Regions from separate parts of the Homo sapiens genome. Here region 2 is linked to region 1. The links come from fine-mapping of genetic effects on gene expression. A gene starts in region 1. The other region holds a variant in brackets. All regions are shown on one strand. Distances are from middle to middle.

Evidence for each region.
Region 2: its variant is fine-mapped to the expression of STARD3NL in whole blood (TOPMed, PIP above 0.99).

The regions. Positions count from the first base shown.
Region 1 is chr7:38,177,030-38,179,950 of GRCh38, forward strand. STARD3NL (STARD3 N-terminal like) reads left to right here and starts at 1,216. Exons shown (of 9, transcript NM_032016.4): 1 at 1,216-1,391. RefSeq lists an enhancer at 863-942 and a silencer at 1,193-1,472.
Region 2 is chr7:38,228,471-38,231,391 of GRCh38, forward strand. STARD3NL (STARD3 N-terminal like) reads left to right here. Exons shown (of 9, transcript NM_032016.4): 8 at 329-401; 9 at 1,453-2,199. The coding sequence ends at 384. Among named protein-coding and RNA genes, the nearest start is that of TARP, 44 kb to the right of the region's middle. The variant CA/C (reference allele first, on the strand shown) is at 1,561.

The DNA of each region.
Region 1 (2,921 bases):
TACTCAGGGGAGCAAATCAGTGAAATCTATTAAGGATTTACATCGTGCAAACTCTGTGATCCAGTACATTCTCTTGTTGGTATCTGCACTCTAGAGAAATACTTGGACCTAAGTACAAAAAGGCATCTACATATATATTTATGGTACCATTGCTTCTCATAATAATATTAATAAACAAACGTGAGGGTGGGGGAATGGTACATTAATTATGTATGTATATATATACACATATTGGTTCTGAGGACATGCAGCATTTTCAGAGAATGAGGTAGATTTATATACAGATATGGAAAGATTTCAATGCTAAGTGTAAAAAAGTAACATCTACACTTGCAAATGCACAGGAACTAGGAGTCATCATCTACAGACTGGGTTTGTAATTAGGGCCTAAAAGGGATATAAGCATAATTGTAACGTTTAAGCTTTTTTTTTTTTTCGCATGGACAAAATCTTACTTGTGTAATTTAAAATTAATAACGGTACTTAGAATGACTTTGGAAAAATATACAAATAATGAAATGGGGATCCAAAGAATGTTCACTGTATACCTCTGTACTTCTAAAAATGTGAATAAGTGTAGCATCCGTTGGGAGAAAAGTTTAATTAAATTTTAAATAAAACAATAAAAGGTGCCTAACTTCGTGTGAAAACAGACATATAGATATAATTAAATGTGACTACCGCTTAGAGATGTTAGTTATGAACTAGGAGCGCTGAGAAAAGGTATCCTAAATAGGTCTGGGGGAAGTGAGAGTTAGAAGAGGTGACTCTTGAGCTGAGTACCGACATAGAAATGGTATGCCCTGTTTTTATTCCTGGAGGGCTCAGCATGAGGTGCCCAAGAGGCCCTGAAACCCATTTCCATGACATTTTCCCACGAGCTGGAGCATAAACCCCCACCGAATAACTGAAGGGAAGCGGAAGGCGCAGAAACGCGGACGAAGAGGAAGCGGGCGCTTGTTAAACCGTGCGATGCACAATGCGGGAAAGTCCAACCAGCTCCGTGTTTCAAAGCTGGATGCCCAGATTTCCCACCCATTCCTACAGGCAGACCGGCTCGCCCTCTCCCTCCTTCCCGCGTCGTTTACTGGTCAGTAGAAGATTGACATGTCATCTGGCCAATAGGTTGGCTCCTCTATGGAGGCACTCAGGAACCAGTCGGGTCTTTGGTCCCTCGAGCGAGATGCGAGCTGTGTGCGTCGACGTCAGCGTGCTGACGTCACGGGCCGGAGGTCCCGGGGCTGCTGGGTGCGGGCGGTGGGCTGCGCGTTGTCCGCTGGACTGGGTCCCGGTCACGCCCCGCCAAGCCCCGCCCCTCAGGCCGGGGCGCGACCGCGGATCCGCAGTTCCCGGGCCAGCCTGGGGCGGCCGGCCAGGAACCACCCGTTAAGGTAGGCTGGGTTTCTCGTTCCCCTATTTGACAGGTTGGAAAACTGAGTCTCCTGGGTCAGATGACTTACATGGGGGCGTACAGGGGACCCGCGGACGGAGGCCATATCCTGGTCCTGTTCTGTTTCCTGAGTCCTGCGCGAGCCTCCAGGGGAGGAGGAGGGGCGAGGCAGGCTGTGCTCATAATGGACACAAGAGTGAAGTTGCAGAATGCTGAGCCCCGCTGCTCCCACGGCGTGGGCCGGGATTCAGGGATGGATATAGGTAGCGGGAGTGTCCTCATTCCTCCAGCCTGCGGACCCTGAGGAGTCCCCGGTGGGGTCGGCCCCGGGCTGGCGCCATGGGCCCCCAAGAAGGACCAAGAATTGGTGACTGGGTGTAATGCGTGGGTTGTCCAGACACAGGCGGTTGTGAGTCTCTTCTATTCATTGAGAAAAGTCGTGTTCAAAAAAAAAAAAAAGAAAGAAAGCACGAATCATGAATGTTCTCCCTGTGGTTTCAGTTAACTGCTTCACCTACTCGTAGATATCTCGCCATTGTTTGAAATCTTAGTTGCTTGAATACTTTTGATTTAGGGTTAGGGATTTTTCCCCCTCTCTTTTAGTTCAAACATGGGTGGACATTGTGGAACTTTTCTTTGTTCACTGTGTCATTTGTCTTCTATTTCACAGATGGAATCACTGAATTCATCACTTGACACAGTACTAGTTTGGATAAGTTTAGCAAGGTAACCAAGTAACGGGTCTAATTAAATCTTTACTGGAATTAGTCCAGTTTGCCACATTTCCTTGTTAGGAAGAATTCTGAAAGGTAATTCCCGTCTGTATACCATATCTACCCATACGCCTCTTTCTAGAAGCAGGATCTCACAAAACGACTTATGGTATCCTTGTTTTATTGATGGATTCTGATAAGGTGGTGGATTATTCATGTTCATAAAATGAAAACATACAATATGTTGTCGTGTAGAAGTCACTGTCTTTAAAATCTAACTGTCTCAAACATTGGTCTTTTAAAACTGCATTATTGCATTGCCTAAAACTGCATGAAAGAAATGAAATGAAACAGCCTCTGAGGGATATTACCTTACTTATGTTCACAGAAGGATGGTGATTAACATCATTTGGATTTATTCAATGGACAGTTTGCCTGAGTGATTGTCTATGCCACTCATTGTTTTAGGTTTTAGAGATTGAGTAGTGAGCAATTTAGATAAGGCCCATACCCTCAAAGACTTTAACTTTTGTTGGAGAATATAATAAACATGTAAATCAAAGAGACAAGTTTAGATAGGAATAAATGTCAGAAAAGATACTACTGGGTAGAGAGTTTGAGAGTGACTGGGTTGTATGGAGAAATGGGATGGTCAGGGAAGACCTCCCTAAGGAGGTAACACGAGGTGACATTTTGGGTGATAGCTGAATGTTTAGCTGAGTCAGCCATGAGAAAATGGGCTGGAAGTTTCTAGGCAGATATAAACAGTGTAAAGGAGCTAAAGGAAGAATGAACTTGGCATGTTCCAGGGACAGAGG
Region 2 (2,921 bases), 51 kb after region 1:
TAAAAAAATATATGCAAGCTTGTCAGCAAAGAGGCAGAGGAAGAATAGTGATTGATAATAGTTATTGGTCTGCATGAATATTCTTAGTACATAAGTGAAATCCATTTTGACAGATTAGTGTAAGTGATAGATTATTGTTTAAAGGTTTTCCTGTTACAAGAAATAAATAAAGCTTTCAAATAGCAGTTAACCTAAATCTCTTGAGGATTAAACATATGTTTAATGTTTTTATGTGTATATGTTATAATTTTAAACCTATTTATTTAAAATAGTTTGTTACTGTAATGGAATGAAATACTTTTTCTTTGTCCCCTTCTCCACCACGTAGGATCTGAAGAAGCTGAAGAAAAACAGGACAGTGAGAAACCACTTTTAGAACTATGAGTACTACTTTTGTTAAAGTAAGTGTTTGAAATGAAACCATAACAACAAAGTAGTTAAGTATGGAGATTTCCTTTGAGTAGAGTCAAAGTAGAATTCAAAGAATAAGAGTGTAAGGATAGCCAGAGTTATCTTACTTGCATGAATTTATCAGTCACATTTTATTAATGCCAAGTGTCTTAACATTTTTTATACAGGTATACATTTATAAGGTTTTGAAAATACCTCAGATTTCTAAATTTCTAAAGAATAGAGATGAATTTATGTTAATTTACTTAGCCAGAATGTCTACATGCCAGTCACATGTCATTGTTTTAATGACAGGTACTAATCTATGTTAAGAGGACAGCAGTCCTGTGAGATGCAGGTGCTGTTATCACCTCCATTTTACATTTGAAGCAGCAGAGACATAGAATGGGTCACTTATCCAAGGTTGCACAGCTAGACGAGGCAGCGCTGGGGCTCAGGCCCACACTTTCTGGTACCAGGTCCACTGCAGCCCCTCACTGGGACATTTCTCAAGGATTTTGGAGCCTCTGAGATGAAAGCTGCTGTACATCCAAAGCAGTCATGCTTAATGGGCTCCAAAGTGGAACACATTGTTAAATCCCTTTAAGTCATCAAAGAAAATCATTTTAACCTCATAAATAGAAGGCAATTGAAGTAAATTGTAGTAGCAGCAAATCTGCCTGACAGTTTAACCACAGAAGGAAAAAGCTGCCAGATTGTGAGTCATTGGGAAGCTGGGATAGAAGCTGACTGGGTGGGAGAGGTAGCCAAGGTCACGGCGCATGGAGCCCCAGTGCCTGCCTCCTCAGCCCCCAGCACACCTCAGCCGCATCTCTCCACCACAGTCATGTAGACGCGAAGCAAAAATGTGGGCATGCTCGTAGTTGAGCCTTTTCTAAAATGTTTTAACATGAATTCTAATGTGACCACACGCATGGTCCTTCGTGTGTCTGTCACAGCCCCTCTTCAGCACACAGACTTTTATGTACATGTAAGGTGACCGTGGCATTTTGCCTTTTAATGCTATTTATTAAATACTTTTGTCTTCTCTCTTTTTCTAAGTGTGAAAAACCCTCACAGAAAGTCATCGAGGCAAAAAGAGGCAGGCAGTGGAGTCTCCCTGTCGACAGTAAAGTTGAAATGGTGACGTCCACTGCTGGCTTTATTGAA[CA/C]GCTAATAAAGATTTATTTATTGTAATACCTCACAGACGTTGTACCATATCCATGCACATTTAGTTGCCTGCCTGTGGCTGGTAAGGTAATGTCATGATTCATCCTCTCTTCAGTGAGACTGAGCCTGATGTGTTAACAAATAGGTGAAGAAAGTCTTGTGCTGTATTCCTAATCAAAAGACTTAATATATTGAAGTAACACTTTTTTAGTAAGCAAGATACCTTTTTATTTCAATTCACAGAATGGAATTTTTTTGTTTCATGTCTCAGATTTATTTTGTATTTCTTTTTTAACACTCTACATTTCCCTTGTTTTTTAACTCATGCACATGTGCTCTTTGTACAGTTTTAAAAAGTGTAATAAAATCTGACATGTCAATGTGGCTAGTTTTATTTTTCTTGTTTTGCATTATGTGTATGGCCTGAAGTGTTGGACTTGCAAAAGGGGAAGAAAGGAATTGCGAATACATGTAAAATGTCACCAGACATTTGTATTATTTTTATCATGAAATCATGTTTTTCTCTGATTGTTCTGAAATGTTCTAAATACTCTTATTTTGAATGCACAAAATGACTTAAACCATTCATATCATGTTTCCTTTGCGTTCAGCCAATTTCAATTAAAATGAACTAAATTATACTGTGTGCTGTTTTTTCAAACATGAATATTCCCCTTGACTCAAGGGAAGTCAGGATGTCTGTTAGTTTTCTTTCATCATTCATTGTGTCATTGAAGAAAAACCTAATTGCCTGTAGTGGTGATGATGCTGGCTTGGGTAGAAACTGACCTTTTGTGCATATCAAGTCACTTCTGAAGGGGTGGCCTGCCCCTCCACACCTGTGGGTATTTCTAGTCGGGTGGGGCGAGAGACTGAGAAAAGAAATAAGACGCAGAGACAAAGTATAGAGAAACAATAGTGGGCCCAGGGGACCGGTGCTCAGCACACCAAGGACCTGCACCGGCACCGGCCTCTGAGTGTCTTCAGTTTTTGTTCATTATTATTTTCATTATTTCAGCAAAAAGGAATGTAGTAGGAGAGCAGGGTGATAATAAGGAGAAGGTCAACAAAAAACGTGAGCAAAAGAATCTATATCATAATTAAGTTCGAGGGAAAGTACTATGCCTGGACGTGCACGTAGGCCAGATTTATGTTTCTCTCCACCCAAACATCTCAGTGGAGTAAAGAATAACAAGGCAGTATTATTGCAAACATGTCTCACCTCCTGCCACAGGGCAGCTTTTCTCCTATCTCAGACTTGAACAAATGTACAATCGGGTTTTATACCGAGACATTCAGTTCCCAGGGGCAAGCAGGAGACAGTGGCCTTCCTCCACGTCAACTGCAAGAGGCTTTCCTCT